Linked DNA regions of Homo sapiens. The protein of the gene in region 3 purifies or fractionates together with the protein of the main gene of each other region. This does not show direct contact. Each region holds a gene or a part of one and is shown on either strand. Other genes may lie near its edges.

Region 1 (7,033 bases), on a different chromosome or scaffold from region 3:
GAGCAGCAACATTATCATGTGTAGGTACCACCTTCTGCCAAACACAATATCCAATTAAATGAATTGATTTAATGTACATGGAAGGCACAATTAACTATACAAAGAGCCCAGACCACAAAGAAGTTTCCTGATCTGTGTGCAAACACAGCCTGCCAGTAAGCACACAGGGATAAGATCTGGGAGTCTGCCAAAATATCAAATTAACATACAGAAGGAAGAGAGGGAGAGAAAAAACAAGATAAAGCTCCCAAATAAAACGAAGATGGAAGGACTGGAAAACTAAGGATAATAAAAAGCTGAAGAGAATAAAATATGATCATTATGAATAAAGATCCTAACAGCAACATTGCCAACTCTCACACCAGAGGACTTACAAAGAAGGGTATTTTATAAACTTTAAAATCAGCAACCACTCAACCACACGTGAGTAATCTGTGAGATGCCAGTGGTTCAACACACGTTACCTTTTTGGCATAGAGCACAATTTTCTGGAATTGGCCTGTTTCTGCAAAACACTGGATCACTTTGCTTGGCACATTTGCCCGAAGGTACACACTCAGAGCGAGCATGGGGTCAGTGGTTTTGACCAAGTCTCCGAGCTCCTCTGAGCACTCCAGCTGTGGTATGCCAAGGGACAAGGCAAAGTTAGGAGGCAGGTAGGGAGCCTGGACCAAGTTTTCAAGCTGTGCGGGGGGGCTACGAGCTCACAAGTGTTTCTACCTTATCTTCTTTCAGCCACTTCTCTAGGAGTTGCTTACGCCCCTGCTGAAGAACCAGATGGCAAAGTTCTAAGGATTCAAGTTTATTGAGCTGACCCTGGTCGAGCAGGATTCCGAAGTACTGCAGCAATGGAGAAGCCTGGCCAGACTGAGCGGGTATACTCTGGAATTTCTGGACCGTCTCTCTGGTACGCAGGATTCCCTAATAATAAATGGAAAAATAGGTCATTGTGTTGTAATCACAGGGGATCCCTTCACTCAACTTCCTTGTATGTAAAAACAAAAATCTGCCAGTGGAAATTCCACACTGCTCTGTCATAGACAAAAAGTCCTCTACCAAGGCAACTGCTTCTATCTTCAACAATAACCATAAGTATAGGGGAATCTAGGTCCTCCAGGTGGCTTCACACTTAGGGTCTTACTTCTCCCCCAGCATGCTGCAGTAAGAATTCGGCCTCTCAATCAGTCTTGTAGTAGTGAAGTTCTGCTATCATTATATTCTAATTCAAAATACTCAAATTCACAGATGAAGGCTAGAAATGGTTTGTTCACAACTACCCCTTGAAAGACAAGAAAAATTCTTTCAAGGACAAGCAACTTGAAAGTCTTTATCTACTCAGGAACAGATCCAGTCTCTGAACAATTTATCCAAATGAAATAAACCCAAGAAAAAGCCATATGCCGAAATGCTATATTCTAAAAGAGTGGAGAAAGTCCAGGGTAGGACTATCGCTAGATAAAACAGGGAACAACCACTTGATGTATTGTACAGTTGCATATTTGACAACCAGGTAGCAAGAGTGGAAAATGCTAAGTTACAGAAATGTGAAACTGTATCTAAGCTGTTGGGTGAGAGGTACGTATGCACACAAAGTGGGAGGCGTGAAGAAGTGCCGATGCAGCAAGAGTGTGTTTTTTGTTTACTTCCTTTACTGTTATGCCATTGGTGCAAAAATTTTAAACTAAAAACTCCTAACATAACACTAATAGACTGCAATATCACTAGTGAAATGCTTTTATGACTTATTTTCCTCTCAAGGTTGGTTCTTAACACTCAGAACACTTGAACAGTATTCAAGGTTTATCACCTTTGGTGCAGACGCTGCAACTTTGGCGGCTTCAGCATAGCTGCCCTGTGCAAAGAGGGTATTGAATTTTCTCACAAACAACTTCTCTGCCCCAGCCAGGTTACTACGAACGGCCAAACGCAGACCAAGGTCTGGATTCTGAAGCACGTTGGTTGCATAATTCACAATGTTATCTTCCTCAACACAAACTGACAGTACCTGTAAGGACACAACAAGTGAGAGCAGCCCGGCCTAGAAGAGTGCTCCACCATCCCTCTGCCATGTTCCCTTCCGATGCTGGAGTGGTAGCCACATTCTCAGGCGAGTGTTGAGCACACCTGTGATGGTGGCCCTCACAGTGAAAGGAGGCAAAGCAGCCGAAAGCCAAATGGTAACAAAACAGAACAGCATAGGAGTCTATGTAGTTATTAAAGTCACACAGATAAGTGTGATGCGTTCTGCGCTACAGCAAAATGACCTATGTGGATGGAACTGACAATTTTTCTTCTTAAACTTTTTATTTTTAAAGTACAGAGTTTCTTTCTTTTTTAAAAAATATTTTTGTAGAGACAGGGTCTTACTATGTCGCTCAGGCTGGATTCAAACTCCTAGCCTCAAGCAATCCTCCTGTCTCAGCCTTCCAAAGTGCTGGGATTATAGGAATCAGCCACTGTTCCCGACTTTTTTTTTTTTTTCCCCTGAGACAGGCTCTCACTGTTTCACCCAGGCTGGAGTGCAATGGTGTGATCACAGCTCACTGCAGCCTCAAACTCCTGGGCTCAAGCCATCCTCCTGCCTCAACCTCCCATGCAGTTGGGATTACAGGCATAAACTATTGTGCCCAGCCAAGAGTTTCTTCTTTTAACTATCTTTTTCAACTATGGTTGAGAAAAGTTACTTAAATACCATAGTATCTGCTTTTTCAACCCTCCCCAGTTAGGGTGTGCATGGTATAAAGATGATGTGCATCAGAACTGCTGTTCTATACGCAGGAAGGAGCTGCTCTCCTCCTGGAATCAATCCTGTGTTAGGAATGGTGCTGTCTGAAGAGAGGAAGTGTCAATATGAAGGAGGAGACATGGGTTTAAGTTTAATAACAGGAACTATTAATAGCTACACCCAGCTGCTTTCCTAGAGAAGGGGGAAAGTTTAAACGCCAGTCCCTAATGAATGGAAAAGGTAGAAAATGAAATGTCAGAGTTACACACCTGTCCCTTTTTGTTGACACCAATAATTCCAGAGGTTGGTTTGTGTGGAGCAGTGACAAATATTGTGTCAGCACTAATACGGTTCATGCAGATGCACACGCCAGACTCTAGGTCGTACAGATGAAGATAGCCATACTTTGTGATCAAGTAAATAACACCATGTTTAGCTCCAATCTATAAGAAGACAGAGAGCAAGAGGTTGGAAAGTAAGGAGGAGAAGCCATGCGGGTAAAAAGAGCTCACAAATGATAAAGAGGATTCTTGTTTGTTTGTTTGTTTTTTGAGATAGGGTCGTGCTCTGTCACCCAGGCTGGAGTGTAGTGGTGCCACCATAGCTCACTGCAACTTCCGACCTCTGGGCTCAGGTGATCCTCCCATCTCAGCCTCCAATGTAGCTGGGACTACAAGTGTGAGCTGCCACACCTAGCTATACAAGGATTCTTCAGTTTCTCAGGCCGAGAGATTACTGGTGGGAGCAATGCTTTCCTGAGACATGGATTCTAAGTTGTACTTGATTGAGAATTAGTTTTAAAGACAATATTTTGTCCAACCACTCTCAAATAAAGGTCCAATAAACTCAGGCTACTCCATTTATCTTTCAGGTAGAGCGATCCTTTCACAGTTTATCGAACCCCTTTAAGCAAGCTGTGAGTTCATAAGAGAAGGGGAAAGTTCTGGACAAAGACCTCAAACGCCAAGATGATGTTCCAGCATGCCTTCTACCACCACTTATTAACCTTTGAGTTTTGCCAAATGCTATTAACTTTTACAGAAAAATATTTAACACACAAGAAAACCTGAAGGGGCTGGGGAGAAAAAACAGATGCATTTGCCCAACCAGATTATTAAACATATATATTAAAACAGACAGTAATTTTTGAAGTATGATTTTACCACTGGAAGAGACAGAGAGAGAAAATAATTAAGAGCCCTGAAAGAGAATGAATCATATATGAGAATTTATTAAGAATGAGTGTGTGGTGGCTAATGACTATAGTCCCAGCTACTTGGGAAGCCAAGGCAGGAGGATCACTTGAGCCCAGGAGTTTGAGTCAAACCTGGGCAACGTAGCAAGACTCCAACTCTAGAAAAATAAATAATTAGTAGGTAACATATTAGTGGAAAATAGGCACTTTAATCAATATATAACATATATTATTAATATAGTTAGCTAGCTATCTGGAGATGGAGGTAAGAGTAAAGAACTGAATTTCTATCTTACTCTTTAGATCAAAGTAAATTCCAGATGGGTCAAAGATTTTAAATAAAAAACAAGGACAATTAGGATAGGAATGAAAGAAAATATAGGTAAATGTTGTGATCATCTTCAGGTGCAGAATTAGTCTCAAAACATGATACCACTGCCACACAAAAATGCAGCACTTCCATAAGGTGCCACATATCACAAATTACGACTGGGAAAAATATTCAAAATACATCAGACACTTAGTACTCTACAAGTACAAAAAGCTCTTACGAATAAGGTAAAAATCCTGGAGTTGGGCACAGTGACACACACCTGTAACCCCAGCTGCTTGGGAGGCTGAGGCAGGAAGATCGCTCGAGGCCAGGAGTTCAAGACTGGCCTAGGCAACATAGCAAGACCCCATCTCTACTTTTTAAAAAAAGATCCCAATAGAAAAAAAATGCAAAGATTAGGAAAAGGCAATTAACCGGATACATATGAGTGGCTGATACATCAATTCTGCCTTGATGGTAACCAAGGGAAAGACATCACAACATGGGATGCTGTCCAGCTACCACCGGCAGCATCAGTAGGAATGTGAACTGGCCAGCATGGTCAGGAGAGTCTGTGATGAGAGTGTGCCCCTGACCCAGCAGTTTAATTTCTAGGAATTTATCCTCGGACTTTTAGACTAACATACAAAGATGTATGGAGCACAATGTTCCTTATAGTGTTTCTTGTAAATGTAAATACCAATCAACAGGGGATTGTTTAAATGAGTTGTAGCAAATCCACAGAACAGATGACACAGACAATAAAATACATACATTATGTTACTGGAACAGAATGATCTACAACATAGCTAGAGGAGTTTATACAGCAGCAAGGCTAGTGCAGAGCCATTTTCATAAGAGTCCATCTGTATAAATCTGCACAAATGTATGCATGTTAAGTTACTTCCAAAGGGGTAGCCAAATTATCAGCAGTGCTAGGATTTCAGGTGATATTTAATCCTGCTGTTACATTTATTGATATTATTAGAAATGTACAGATAACATATATTTTATGAGAACAAAAGAGTAAAAAGGAGAGTAGATTATATAATCTTACATATATAATGTGATGCCAATTTTGTTCAGAAAAGGTATAGATCTAAATTTTTTATAAAACAAATTGTAAGATTTTTTATTTTTATTCTTATTTATTTATTTATTTATTTTTTGGAAATGAAGTCTTGCTCCAGGCCGCGGTGCAGTGGCATGCAGTGGTGTGATCTTGCCTCACTGCACTCTCTGCCTCCTGGGTTCTAGAAATTCTCCTGCCTCAGCATCCCATGTAGCTGGGACTACAGGTGCACACCGCCATGCCCAGTTAATTTTTTATATTTTAGTAGAGACGGGGTTTCACCATGTTGCCCAGGCTGGCGTCGAACTCCTGAGCTCAGGCAATCTGCCCGCCTCGGCCTCCCAAAGTGCTAAGATGACAGGTGTGAGCCAACGCGCCCGGCCAAGATTTCTTATATATTTTACATCCAACTGGTTTATCTACAGAGGAATGTTTTCTGACTCTGTGCCTTTGACACTTCCACAACAATATTCTGCTCCTCAATAAGGAAAGCACACTTGATCCTGTCACGAACACACTTAGCACACACGGAACCACCACAGGCCCTGCTGACATGTGTTTCTGTTTTAGGGAACCTCACAAGAACTTCAGGTCTCATAGCACGAACTCCTCGAAGTCTGGCTAGGCACATGCCACATGCAGGTTCAGGTGTTTTCCCAACCTTCTTGATGTAAAGGTGAATAATTCTCCCACCAGGGGCTTGGGACTACCTAGTTTCACTAGAGGCTGCGTGTCAAAGGCTGGGCCATTCTGAATGCCAGCTCAAAGGACTGTCCCTGGGAGCTCTAGGCTCCCTCAATGGCAGCCAATTGTAAAGGAAATAAGTGTTTTATTCTTTTTTTTATTATTATAAGTTCTGGGTTACATGTGCAGAACGTGCAGTTTTGTTACACAGGTATACACGTGCCCTGGTGGTTTGTTGCACCCATTAACCCGTCACCTACATTAGGTATTTTATTCTTTAAATATTCTCATACCACAGTGAACATCTAATCTTTTATAATAAGAAGGAAAGAGCTGAGGACTTTGATGTGTGACTTGGCAACGTCTTCCTGCTGCCCTAACTCACCCTCATGCCGGGCATTCCTTTCTACGAACAGGGCTTTCCCAGCTCACACGCCAAAGCCTTAGGCCTCTAAATGGGTTTGAAAGCATCACAGTGGCAGGAGACAGCAGAAGCAGACTAAAAATGGCAGCCTCCTGTATCTTGGGAGGTGCTAGAGTAGATTTTAGGACATGAAGATGTTTAGAGAGCAGCACATTCGTACCTGCATAGCCACTGGAAAATCATTCTGTGCCTCTGGAGGAAAAAACACATCTACTGCTTTCTTTACAAAAGGTTGGTTTCCCGCTGCAGGCTGTCCAACTTCAATGATGTGCAACTAGAAGAGAGATTTTAGGTCAATCAAGGGGACCGCCTGTGGTGGTGGGCAAGTGCTAGTCAAGGCACAGAGGCAAGTGGAGCCTCAGCTCCACACACTGGATGATTAACGCTAAAAGTCACATTCAACCAAAGCAGAACAACCCCCTTGTCGGAGTGCCTGTGATTATCCAATAACCTGCTGCCCACCACCAAGCATGGCACAAAGGGCCAATGCCAGGCAGCCTGGAGCCTCAGTTCCAGCACAGTGGCAGAGTCACTTCCCCTCCCCGGGCCTGGATGCCGATGAAACAAAGGGCTCCAGTCAGAATCTGCTGTCCCTTCCAACTCTGCTCTCTGCCTTTCTG
Region 2 (7,033 bases), on a different chromosome or scaffold from region 3:
TGCATTCCTGTAATGCCAGCTACTCGGGAGGCTGAGGCAGGAGAATCGCTTGAACCTAGGAGACAGAGGTTGCAGTGAGCTGAGATTGAGCCACTGCACTCCAGCCTGAGCAGCAGAGAGACTCTGTCTCAATAAAAAAAAAAGAAAAAGAGGCTTAGATTCTGATATGTACACATTTATTATTTGTGAGCTTCAGAAACAAAAATCTAGTATAATTTTAATTGAAATTTGTTTTTGTTCTTGTGATATCTTAAATGCATTATTTTTCAAGCTGGCATTAAACCTTAAGGTTTATTGGATCTTATTAAATAAAAATGCAGTTTCATATTTTATATCTTAATGTTTGTGACATTATTATGGCTATGCAGGGATCCTTGAGTCTCAAATGTGTATCTTTTTAAACAAGTGATTTTTGAAGTAACTATTTTTTATCATTATTATAGAGTTAAGAATTGGCAATATATTCTTTAAAACATGGTCTCTTTCAGTAATGTAGTGTGTTAGGAAGAGGGTAATGAAGTAACGTGCCATATTTAATCAGGATGATCAGATTAGCTTCAAAAAAGTGATGTCAATTTTGTTTTGCAGAATGCTGAACTATTAGTTTATAAAATTTTACTTGAATGGTATTGATTTACTGATAGTCTTTACTGACTTATTAGTTGCTCAGACTAATGGTTTAGATTGATTTTTGAGATTCCTTTTTCTTTGTATAGTAAAGCTAATTTTCCCATTTATTTATTATAGATGTAACATTCATTTTTAATATTTATTGAGTTATAGGCATTAAGAGTATCTTAATATAGGAAATAGTCAAATCTGTTGCATTTAACCATACGGTTAACATGCTAGATAATACTGTTTACATTATTGATTTTATCTCTCTGATATTACTTATGAGATGTTGAAAGATTAAATCAATTTCTCCCATACATGCCAGCAATAATCATCATCTTCACTTTTTGAGAAAGACATATCTCATATAAACCCAGACTTCTAGAATTACAGAAGTACCTTATAATTTGACTTTTTCAGTGTAAATGCATCACAAATATTTTTTTCTTTTTTTGATGGGGTAGGGAGGTTCACTGGACTGATTTCTTCTTATAACTACCTGGCTTTGTGTAAGACTATAGATTCTTATCCAAAACCCTCAGGGCCTGGTGTATTCTATCATTAAGATTAAAAAAATATATTTTAGAAAGTAATGAAGTACATATACTGATATGTTATATGTTAGGTTAAATTATTAGCAGGGTCTGAGGAGGAACTCTAACTAAACACATTATTTCTGCAGTGAAATATATGAATATTTATGTTAATTTGGACAAACAAAGCCAGAGTGCCTTATCAGTATGGATCAGGTTTTGCTGCTAAACATGTTTTGTAAAAACTTATGGATTGCAAAGTTTTTTGAATTTTGAATTTCAGCTAATCAATTCTGAGCCTGTAATAGATTGTGTTATGTATTATAATATTTATAGGTATGATTGTTTCTACAAATAATAAAAAATATAGCAAAATTATGTATCTTTATTGTTTTCCAATTTTTCTACTATTTCAACTTTTATCTTGTAAAATATTTTCTTTGTACAGCTGCTGTATTCTCGAGGATTACTAATTGATCTTCTAATCAAATCTAATGTTAGTCGATATGCAGAGTTTAAAAATATTACCAGGATTCTTGCATTTCGAGAAGGACGAGTGGAACAGGTACTGTGCTGATCAAGAATTGTAACTGGGCATCAGCTTAAGTTATTATGGTTTGTTTTGGAAAGATAAGCAAATAAGATTGTTATTTTCCTCATAAAGCAGTAAATTCCAGTCCTCCGTGGTGATTTACAAATGTAAATGCTTAATTAAAATTTCTAGTGCTAATTTTCTCATGGCTTACTCTGCAGCTTGGTGTTGGTACCAAGCAGCACACAAAAAACCAAAAAGCACACCAGAGTTACTATACCCAAGACTAGTCACACAAATCCTTTTCTCCCATTAATCAAGATTTTGGAGAGGGAAAAGAAAGAAACGGTGATTTTTGCTGTCCACTTGATCAGATTCCACACAGAGGAGGAGGCCCGGAGCCTGGTTGGGAAAAAATTCTTACCCTTATGACAGCTGATCAGATCCTGGGTTCTTCACTGCAGCTTCCAGAAGAGCAGAGCTTTGCTATCCTGCTCACAGCACCAAAACTGTAGGGGCCAAGGGAAACACTCCCTCTTAAGCCTCTGAAGTTTCACTGAAAAATCAACTCACAAAGGCAGATTAATTGGAGAAAAGGCATAAAAATGTACTAACATGTACATAGGGAGAACCACAGTGTTTGTTTTAGATAGCACTGCTAAATTTTTCTCTGTTAGGATGACATGCCGTTGGCCTTTTAATGGCATGGGGAGTAACTTGGCAGAATTAAGTAAGAAAGCTCACAATTAGCTCTGAAGTTAGCAGAGATGCCATTAGTACTGATGGACGGTGATGTGAAAAAGCCTGGCTAGAGTGGAAACGATAATCCTGTTATATGTAAAGGGGAAAAAAGTGTAATTTGGAATAGTTATATCATTAGGAAGCAGTTTCTTAACTTAAAATCATAATATTTTTCAGGTTCCGTGTTCCAGAGCAGATGTCTTTAATAGCAAACAACTTACTATGGTAGAAAAGCGAATGCTAATGAAATTTCTTACATTTTGTATGGAATATGAGAAATATCCTGATGAATATAAAGGTATTTTTTTCATTAAGTAGTGCTCTCCAATTATTTGACATTTCTTACTATTTTAATATGCTTGCTCTGATTTAGTGAGCCACTTATTACTGTTTTAAAATGCATTCTAACTCTGCACTATCAATAGGTTAGCCATTAGTAACATTTAGCTATTTAAATTTAAATTAATTAAAGTGAAATAAAATAAAATAAATTCAGTTTCTCAGTCTTATTAGCTGTATTTCAAGGGCTCCCATAGCCCCATGTGGCTACAGTGCAGATATTTTCATTGCTGAAGTGGCATGCTAGATTTTAATTTTTATTCTTATTATTTAAATACTACTGTCAACTGGCTCTTCATAGATGATAATCTGTTTTCATGATTCCATTATTTTTTCTCATAAGTAAAAATACTATATATTTTATCATTTTCCAGGATTGCTTTTGCATAGAATCTTGAACTATTTCGTTTGAAAAAAAAAGGCTAGATGGTATATGGGGAAAAATACTGGATTCAGAAAAGGCATGGTTTCTATTCTTGGCTTTGACCTATTTCATTATGTGATCTGGGGCCAGTTACTTCATTGTCTGTTAAAAATTGAATATGCCATTTTAGTGTCAGAGCTATATACTTTAAGTCCATTGGTCTGAAAATGTTATCCAAAATTGGAATATACTATTGATAATTTATTTATAAAGTTACAATGAGAAGTGCAGCGATATTTTTTTTCCTCTGTGAAATAATGAAAGTCTAATCCTTGCTCTTAAAGCTTCAAGTCTACTAGGTACTGTCATGTTGTTATCCACAGTGGCTGTGTAAAATTCAATTCTCTCAGTAAATTTTCATAATTTTTATTTATGTAAATTATTTCTGTAAAGTTTTTGTCTTTTATCATGGGATTTATTTCCCACCACTAACAGTCCAATTACATTATATTCTGTTCTTGGTTTAAAGGAGTAACTTCTGGGGGTCCCGTATGTTTTGATGTGATTATGTGGCCATAAGACTGATTCCAGTAGCCACATGGAAATTCATTTCATTATTTTTTAGTTTATTTTCTGAGTATCAGTGAGAAGTATACGTTTTACAAAACTCACATATTTATCATTTTAAATCAATACATTCCCATGTTGTCATAGTTGTTTAATATTTTCAGTACCATTATTGGCATTATCCTGCAGGTTTCATGATAATAAAGTGAGATTATTGCCAACTATGACAACCCATTGAGTTATTTAATATTTTCTAGTTTTTTTTAAATCCATGAAATGCTCAATCATAATTCATCATTTAAAGCTAAAAATTGTGCCATTACTCCAAATAAGAGAGAGAGATTGTTTCCATTTTTTCCTAAGATCAACCATCAGTGTCCAAAATGTAATACCACCTATGTCCTTTGTGAGGTCTGTGAAACACACTTCATCTCCTTTTTGTGGGGTGGTTTTAAATAGAAGTTTAGTTCTGATTTTAAGTGATAAAATTTCATCTTTTCATAGGATATGAAGAGATCACATTTTATGAATATTTAAAGACTCAAAAATTAACCCCCAACCTCCAATATATTGTCATGCATTCAATTGCAATGACATCAGAGACAGCCAGCAGCACCATAGATGGTCTCAAAGCTACCAAAAACTTTCTTCACTGTCTTGGGCGGTATGGCAACACTCCATTTTTGTTTCCTTTATATGGCCAAGGAGAACTCCCCCAGTGTTTCTGCAGGTAAGTTTGCCATTGATTTTCTTGTCCCTTCTAAAAGTGATACTTGAATAACAGATGAAAATTAGGCAGGCAAAAATGAGATTTATTCAAGATTTAGTATATGCAAATATATACTTTATTCTATTTATTTTTTATAATCTATTTACCTACCTATCTACCCACCTAAGTGATATATTCAGTGTGGCCTCTTTTTGAGCTTGATAAAAATACTATAAATTCCTTTTTCCACTCAATAGCATGATGGAAAGTATTGTCATTGCATATAATTTTAGTTAATTTTTTATTACTATATAGTATGTTATTGTGAATACACCACAATCTATTTTTTCATTTTTCTGTTGATGAACACAGGATGTTTCCAGTTTTTTGAGGTTAACACCCTTGTGTATGTTTCAAGTTGTGTATGTTCAAGAATTTCTCTCGGAAACATATCTAGGGGTGGAATTCCCCAGTCCTGAGATACATGAATGTTAACACTTTACAACATCGTGTTCAGTTATTTCTCTAGAGGGCTGTACCAATTATAACCTTTTAGCCGTACATAAGAATACCCAAAGCTTTACATGTTTGCCAACATTTAAAATTTTTTTGTCAACCTAACTCACATAAATTATCATTGCATTGGATTTTTATTTTTCATTTCCCTAATTACCTATGAAGTTGAACCTTTTCTCATATGTTTACTGGCCATTCATGTTTTATCTTCAGGGAATACTTGTTTGTGTCTTTTTTTGTTTGTTTTACACATTTTTAAAAATTTTTATTTTTTGTGGGTACATAGGAGGCATATGTGTTTGTGGGGTACATGAGATAGTTTAATACAGGCATGCAAAGTGTAATCCATCATGGTAAATGGAGTATCCATCCCTTCACACATTTATCCTTTGTGTTGAAAACAATCCAATTATACTCTTCATTTTAACATGTACAATTAAATCATTATTGACTGTAGTCACTCTGTTGTAATATCAAACACTAGATTTTATTCATTCTTTCTAACTACGTTTTGTACCTATTAACCATTCCTACTTATCCGCTGCCCCCTCAAAACCCGCCCCAGGCTCTGATAACCATCCTTTTACTCTCTGTCTCCATATGTTTAATTGTTTTAATTTTTAGCTCCCGCAAGTAAGTGAGGATATGCATTGTTTGTCTTTCTGTGGCTGGCTTATTTCACTTAATATAATGACCTCCAGTTTCATCCATGTTGTCATGTTGTTGCAAATGTCAGGGTCTCATTCTTTTGTTTTTTTTTTTTTGGGAGATGGAGTCTTGCTCTGTCACCCAGGGTGGAGTGCAGTGGTGTGATCTCGGCTCACTGCAACCTCTGCCACCCAGGTTCAAGTGATTCTCCTGCCTCAGTCTCCTGAGTAGCTGGGATTACAGGCACGTGCCACCACACCTGGCTAATTTTTGTATTTTTAGTAGTGATGGAGTTTCAGCATCTTGGCCAGGCTAGTCTTGAACTCCCGACTTTGTGATCCACCCATCTCAGCCTCCCAAAGTGCTGGTATTACAGGCGTGAGCCACCATGCCCAGCCAGGATCTCGTTCTTTTTATGGCTGAGTATTACTCCAAGGTGTAACTGTACTACATTTTCTTTATCCATTTATCTGTTGCTGGGCACTTAGGTTGCTTCCAAATCTTGGTTATTGTGAACAGTGCTGCGACAAATGTGGTATGTAGATATCCCTTTGATACACTGATTTCCTTTCTTTTGGGTATATACCTAGCAGTGGGATTGCTAGATCGTATGGTAGCTCTATTTTTACTTTTCTGAGGAACTTCCAAACTGTTCTCCACAGTGGTTGTACTAATTAACACTCCCACCCACAGTGTTCAAGGGTTCCCTTTTCTCCGTATCTTTGCCAGCATTTGCTAGTGTCTTTCTTTTGAATAAAAGTTATTTTAACTGGGGTAATAAAATATCTCATTGTAATTTTGATGTGCATTTCTCTGATGATCAGTGATGTTGAACACCTTTTTATATGTCTCCTTGTCATTTGTATGTCTTCTTTTGAAAAATGTCTATTCAGATCTTTTGCCCAATTTTTAGTCATATCATTAGATTTTTTTCCTGTAGAGTTGTTTGAGCTACTTATATATTCTGGTCATTAATTCCTTGTTAGACGGGTAGTTTGCAGATATTCTCTTTCATTCTGTGGGTTGTCTTTTCACTTTGTTTATGGTTTCTTTTGCTGTGCAGAAACTTTTTAACTTCATGTGTTCCCGTTTGTCCATTTTTGCTTTAGTCGCCTGTGCTTGTGGGGCATTGCTTAAGAAATCTTTGCCCAGACCAGTGTCTTGGAGGTTTTCTCCGATGTTTTCTTGTAGTAGTTTCAAAGTTTGAGGCATTAGATTTAATTCTTTAATCCATTTTGATTTGCTTTTTATATACTGCAAAAGATAGGGGTCTAGTTTCATTTTTCTGCATACAGATATCCAGTTACCCCAACACCCTTTATGGAAAAGACTGTCTTTTACCCAGTGTATATTCTTGGCACCTTTGTCAAAAATGAGTTCACTGTAGGTGTGTGGATTTGTTTCTGGGTTCTCTATTCTGTTTTTTTGGTTTATGTGTCTGTTTTTATGCCAGTACCATGCTGTTTTGG
Region 3 (7,033 bases):
TGCTTATTTTTAAATATATTTAACTGTTCATTTTTAAATAATTTTGGATTTACAAAAACATTGCAAAAAAAGTAAACATTCCTACCATTCACACATATTTCTCAAATGTTAACATCTTAGATAACCAGAATACAACTATCAAAATCAGGAAATTACATAATAGTGTTGTATCAGTGCTAGCCTAAAAAGCTTACTCAAATTGCATCAATTATCTCAATGCCCTATTTCAGATCCAGGATCATAAGCTATATTTCACTGTTGTCGCCCTGGTCTCTTTTACTCTCGAACAGTTCCTCACTCTCCTTGCTTTTCATGACCTTGACACTCTCAGAGAGCACTGGCCGGTGAATATACCTCCATCTGTGATGTTCGATGTTTCCTTATCATTAAATTCAACGTATGTATTTTTGGCAGAAATAAAACACAAGTGATGTACCCTGCACAGTTTATCAGGAAGCACACTGCTTCAAGTTGTTTTTGCCATGTTTCTCCACAGAAAAGTTATTATTTTTCCCTTTGTACTTAGTGCAAATATGTAAATATCCTGTTTCTCACCGCACTTTTCCCCACTAATGTTATCATCAATTAATTCCTCCCTACAACAATCATCACTGTGGTGTTTAATGGTGACTTTTTTATTTCTGCCATTCCTTCTACATTTATTAGCTGGAATTCTACTGTTAGAAAGAGGTTCCACACATGTATACATACGTGACTAACCTGCACGTTGTGCACATGTACCCTAAAACTTAAAAGTATAATAAAAAAATAAAAATAAAAAAAGAAAGAGGTTCCCTTCTCCCCCATTTCTTTATTCATTTGTTCATTTTTATCATGGATTATTAGTTTACTCTATAAGTTGAACCCATTACAGTAATTATTTAGTTTGTTGCTCAAATTGTCTTACATGTTTGGAGCTTGTATGGCAGTATCCTGTATCTTTGTCACATGTCCCCATCATTTTGTAAGCATTTCCTTAGTTTCTTGCACAACAAAATATCTCAGGCACATCTTTACTTGACTTGTTCCACCCGTCCTAAAATCAGGCATTTCTCTAGAGATTCCCATTCTTTTTACTGGAGAATGATATTTAAAAACCGAATTTTGAGCACGAGGTAAGTTAATTGGTTCTGTGGTGTCATTCCTTTTAAGCCCTCTCAGCAGGTATGGCTAGTAAATAAACGTATGTATACACACATGCATCTGTATCAACTTCTTTATCTGTTTACACATATGTGTGTGTACATACATATATCTATACACACTCACATATATATATGCATATACTCTTACACACACACACATATGAAACCTGAAGCTCATATTAATGTCTAATCCAATCCAATGCTATGAGGTTCATTGTAGCCTTTTTCCTTATTTGTAAACCCTTTCTCAGACAACAAGAAACCTAAAACAGCTGTGCTATTTACAGGCATCTTTCATAGCACTGAAACAAGCTTTTTATTTATTTTTTACCTCCACTCCCAAGATAAGTGTTAACTTTAATTCAAGTATTGATCTTTTGAATGTCCAAGTGACATTCAGTCCCAGCTATCCCCATTATATCAAATAATTATAAAATTCTCTAACTGTATTTGGAAGCAGTTGGTTAAAATTCCAATGATAGTGTAACTAGTCACATGTTAATGTAATTCCCATATGTTAATATTATTAAAGTTTCATATTAGAAATCCATTATTTGCCATAAAGGTGAAATGATGAAATTTATTTGCAAAAGTTATCTTTTGCCTATGTTCCTAGTGAAATTCGGATGACTGCAATTCAAGCAAAAGTCAGATCTGAAGTTAGCTGCAGGCCAGCTCAGAAGTGTACCTTAGTGACATTTAGGCAGTACTTTAAGCCTTAACTCTAAGATTTTTAACCTAAATTTTTTTATTACTGTTATTCTCTTGGAACACGTCTGGTTTACTGCTAAGGAAATTCTACAGAAGCTGCTTCTATTATATTTGTATGGAAGCACAGAGCAAACTTGAAACTTGTACTCTTAACCAGCGTTTCACCTTTCACCTCTGCGTGTAATCCTATCCATACATAAAGTGAAACCGATGACTTACACAGTCACAAGCTACTAGTCACATGACGTCTTACATCTGGGGGCAAATCTGGATTTACTATCTGAAAGATTAAATAGAGCCTAAAGGGGAATTTTGTCTATCATTTATAAAACTCCTCCACCAAAATGCACACTCGCATAAGCAGTTATACTTACTGCCCCTTTTTTTTTTTTCGTCTTTTTACAGCAAAGCTGGCAAGTAGAGCAAATCACCCAATAGGCATACAGAGCAGACAGAGGGCATGAGTGTCCAGAAGAACACGCCTGTAATCCTAGTGCTTTGGGAGGCTGAGGCAGGCAGATCACTCCAGCTCAGGAGTTTGAGTCCAGCCTGGGCAACACGGCAAAATTCTGTCTCTACTAAAAATGCAAAAAGTAGCTGGGCATGGTGGCACATGCCTGTGGTCCTAGCTTCTTGGGAGAATGAGGTGACTTCTCTATAAGAAGGCTTTCTTTCTGTGATTTTCTCCTTCGTGTCAGATTAAGTGCTCACATAGCACTCCTGGGCTTCATCTTTCTTCTATCACTATGTTTTATTTATGAAAGGAAATTTTAAGATGCTATATTTATTCAAACAATTAGCCTCTAGCTTAGGAGTGTACATTTCTGCCTGCAGTAGACAGTCTTTTTTTTCCCAGTGACTCCATCATTGCGCAATATTTTTGGAGCGGTCTCCTTTTGTGCAGTCTCTCATTGCTTCGCTTTTATCCCGCAGATCATCATTGGCATCAAGTAGTTTTTCACTCTAAGGGTAAGTTTCTAGTAGAGCTAAACCTAATCTGATTAGTAAATATCCAGAATGAGGTGGGTGATTTGGAGGAACAATCATACATACATACATATATAAAAACACCCGTAAACACACACAAGAAATCCACAGAACATAAACTAAAAGCTAGAACTGTGTTATGATTTCAACAAATTTATGGTATAATGTTTATCTGTCATCACAGAATTTTTCAAACATTTCATCATTCTTACATAAATCTGATTGTCACTAACCCCCTTATGTGAAAGTTCCAATGCACGTAACCCCCCCCCCAAACATTTTATATATGTATAATTTTCACCTTTTTTCTATATCTAGACTATTAAGATTTTTTTTTTTTTGAGATGGGGTCTCACTTTGTCACCCAGGCTGGAGTGCAGTGGCATGATCTCGGCTCACTGCAACCTCTGCCTCCCAGACTCAAGTGATCCTCCTGCCTTAGCCTCCCGAGAAGCTAGGACCACAGGCATGCACCACCATGCTCAGCTACTTTGTGTATTTTTGGCAGAGACAGGGTTTCGCCACGTTGCCCAGGCTGGTCTCGAACTCCCAGTTCAAGCGATCTGCCCGATCCATCTGCCTCGGCCTCCCAGACTGCTAGGATTACAGGCATGAGCCACCGTGCCTGGTCACTAGACTGTTAAGATTTTTGAAAGTCAACTGAGTGTTTTATTTTTTCCTTCAGAAAATATTTTATTCAGCTTTCCATAATAGACAAAAGAAAAAATTCTCACTCTACTGTTTATGAAGCATACCACAAATGTTGATACTTTCTGGCTGTTTCAAATCTTTCGTACACAGTTAACCTAAAACTCTTCAAACATCATCTGAATAAATCTCCTCTCTGATCTTTTCACATGGTCCTGCATGTGACACACATCTTCACCAGAGGCATCTTCCTATTCACTTAGCCTTTTGTAAAAACCAAAAATTCTCGTGCTTGACAATACCCCCAACCACTCTAGTTGCATGAGAAGTACCTCAGTTAAAAACTCAAACTCACAGAAAATGTCATTTGCTTTTTGCCCTAAATAATTCTTTTTGTTTTGATGGAAAATCTGCCCTTCTATTAGCCATTAGCCAATTTGGAAAGCAGTCCTGTTGTGGACTGAAAGAAGCTATAACACATCCATGCTACACTTCTCATTTTCCAGACTTTCAAACACCACTCACATAAATATATCTAAATACTTTACATTTACAGCTCAGAATTATGAGCTAGAAAGCAAAAGATGCATAAGCAAAGCAGATCTCACCTTTGCAGAGGTTTCAAACCATCCGGCAAAGCCATGTTCTTTGCAGAATTGGTCCACCTGGGAAGGACTCTGGCTACTGTCCTTGTTCTGGTCACATTTGTTAGCCAAGAGGACAGCAGGGATAGGGCTGCCATTTGGAAGATGAACTTTACTATCCAGATCACTTTTCCATTTTAAGACTGCCTCAAATGTGGAACTTCTTGATATATCAAAGACTACAAAAGCACCAACAGCTTCCTTGTAGTATACTCGGGTCATGTTGCCAAATCGCTCCTGCCCTAGACATAAATATAAGAAAAAATTAAAAACTTGTAATTCAGACAGAGTCTACATTTAGGTATAACCCCTTTTACCCCAAGAGCAACACTATGAACAAATGTCTTCCATTCCACAGCAATATAACCTGGTGTGATTAAGGCTATCCATACAGACCATGACCCATAGAGCAGATGTGTCTGATAATTTGGTTTAAGTACATAATGAATTAGTTTTATGTTCTGTACAACATATTCTCCATAAAAACCAATATGACAATATTTAAAGCTACAAAGTCTGTCATTTATTCCGACTCGTCTCCCCTTAGTCTAAGAGAAGAGAGGCACTAAAGGAAAACATAAAGCTGGAAGTAGAGGAAGAAGAGACAAGAATAGAAGAAATGAAGCCTGCAGGAAGGAGATAAGTGCAGTGGGTAACATGCTAGTCAAATAGATTAGGGCTGGACATGAGATAAAGTAGTTCATGTTCTCAACTCATCTCTCCTTCATATCTCTAGCCCATACCCACTTCTGACTCAATATGCAAGATTTCACCCCTGTAAGTAGTAGATACATGAAAATCTGTTTCAGAACAAAAGGCACAACTGGTTGTGTTGTTACAAGAAGAATCAATTCCAGGGTTCTTCAAATGTCATTGTACTTTTAAAATAATTTATGTCAAACACTTTGGGAAAAATCTGCTTTGTACATTATATAGGACTTTGCAAAGCGTTCTCTTACTATCTGCTATTGTACTAATCTTTGGCATAGGAAAGACCCTTCTTTTCATCTGACAGATGTAACAACAGGAAAATGGATGCTTGGCCAGGATTATAGTGGCACTGACTAAAGAAGACAGGACTAGAATCCAGGTCTTCTGACTCCCACACACCTATAGAAGTGGGATGCTAGCCTTTCTGAACTATCTTGCAGTTGCCTTGACTTAGTTACTGACTACAGTGTGAAGGAAAAATGATTGGCAATCAATGCACATCTAAGATGTATCACTCTGTTCTATGATAAAGACACTTTCTTCTTGAAACACATGAGCAACAGGCTTTATCTACATTTTATTGACACATTTTCTCTGCACAGATGCAAAGATACCCCAAAATATAAAATTCTTCCTTCTCCAAACTCTACAATGCAATATAATTTTATATATTGTTTTAGGGAATAATGGAAGAAGAATAAAACAATGGTCAAACGTGAATGCATAAATTTAAGGTTTGTTTTGTGATGACTCCTCATATGGTTTAACTGAAGCTGTACTGTAATAGTCCAAAGGTCTAAATTTTACTGTAACAAATGGTCACATATGAAACCCTACTATTATGCTCATATTTTATTGTGATGTAAATCTGACCATTATATAGTTCATTGGCTCATAATGCTGACATTTATAAAAACTTACATGATATGCCAACTGTTCAAAATCGCTATTCTGCAGAAAGACTATATGCATTGAAATGATTCAGACTCCAATTTCAAATGCAGTGCACACATTACCAACCACTTCCATTTTTATATATTTTAATTATTGAATATGAAAAGACTAAGCAACAAGATATGACAGTCTTAAATTAGGAAATTGAAAAAGTAAGATTTCAAGATAATTACATGGTAATAAACTATTCCTTTGGACTATATCTTTAATTTAGAAAAGAGAGTGGGGTGACAAATGAGTAAAAGAACAGTTAGAAACCTAGAAGTTAACAAAGAGTTGTTAAACTTTAGTGACTGTTGCTTTTTTTTTTTTTTTTTTGTGAATCATCTGTAAATTTCAAGTATTTCCTTTTACTCGTGCTCATGAAAGATGATAGGAGAGTTGTGAAAAAAAAGACAAAGGGATATTACTAGGTATACTAATCGACAAAGTATAAGATGCAGCAAGGCAATCAGGATCCACATTCTATTTTGGATGGGAATCAAAACAATGTAAAATAAGTTTAGGCATAAATTATATAGTTTATATCTTCCAAGCACACATTTTATGCTTGGGTAAATATTATTTATATGAACTTCAGAGCAGACTGTTCCCAATTTGTCCTTTGGCCCAAAGGAGAGTTACTCATTCAGATTTTTATTAAAAAATGTTGATCCTAAAAAGCAAATCACTCAGTCAATACATGAAGGCTAAAGTATACTAGACCTAAATGGACAAACTTGTTTTTTTAAGATTTAACCTAGACCAGTCTTTCAATTTGCCTGAAAAATGCTATAGTGACTAATAAGCAATAAGCATATAATAGTAAACCAAATACTACTTTACCTACACTGAGCATTAAAAGGAAGATCAGAGACATCTCTTGCTATATCTTGAGTATGCATTTATTAAGATCTCTGTAAAGTGTTATCAAAGACTTCAAGATTTTAGTATATTTCAGTTATGTTTTGAGCAGCAGTCCTAAAGTACGTGTGAGTTAAGAGATGGCAATTGTCTAACACAAAAACTGCACTAAACTGCATCTGTATTTTAAAGCCAGATTCCTTCAATGCCGTAAGAACAGATTTGTGTATCTGAGGATCACAGTGGTTCTTAACCTGAAGAGTTCAGCTGAATCTGCTTAGCTACATGTGTAGAAAACATTTGATAATTCTAGCCTATCATACTTGCCACAGCTTTCAAGCATAGAGATTCGTCATAATTTCTTCACTACCTCGCCCTCTCACTGAAGCA

The links. Proteins that work in one complex are often made in the same cells at the same time.
Region 1: the proteins of RAB32 (region 3) and CLTCL1 purify together in Homo sapiens (affinity purification with mass spectrometry; 3 studies listed by BioGRID and IntAct, with this or other methods). This does not show direct contact.
Region 2: the proteins of RAB32 (region 3) and CHM purify together in Homo sapiens (affinity purification with mass spectrometry; 4 studies listed by BioGRID and IntAct, with this or other methods). This does not show direct contact.

The regions. Positions count from the first base shown.
Region 1 is NC_000022.11:19,232,702-19,239,734, forward strand, and holds part of CLTCL1 (clathrin heavy chain 2), read right to left. Parts: intron 6,688-7,033; coding exon 6,574-6,687; intron 3,169-6,573; coding exon 2,995-3,168; intron 2,006-2,994; coding exon 1,808-2,005; intron 922-1,807; coding exon 721-921; intron 618-720; coding exon 465-617; intron 1-464. UniProt on the Homo sapiens protein: Clathrin is the major protein of the polyhedral coat of coated pits and vesicles. Two different adapter protein complexes link the clathrin lattice either to the plasma membrane or to the trans-Golgi network.
Region 2 is NC_000023.11:85,953,541-85,960,573, reverse strand, and holds part of CHM (rab proteins geranylgeranyltransferase component A 1), read left to right. Parts: intron 1-1,596; coding exon 1,597-1,713; intron 1,714-2,598; coding exon 2,599-2,719; intron 2,720-4,195; coding exon 4,196-4,421; intron 4,422-7,033. UniProt on the Homo sapiens protein: Substrate-binding subunit of the Rab geranylgeranyltransferase (GGTase) complex.
Region 3 is NC_000006.12:146,546,808-146,553,840, reverse strand, and holds part of RAB32 (ras-related protein Rab-32), read right to left. Parts: intron 4,378-7,033; coding exon 4,100-4,377; intron 1-4,099. UniProt on the Homo sapiens protein: The small GTPases Rab are key regulators of intracellular membrane trafficking, from the formation of transport vesicles to their fusion with membranes.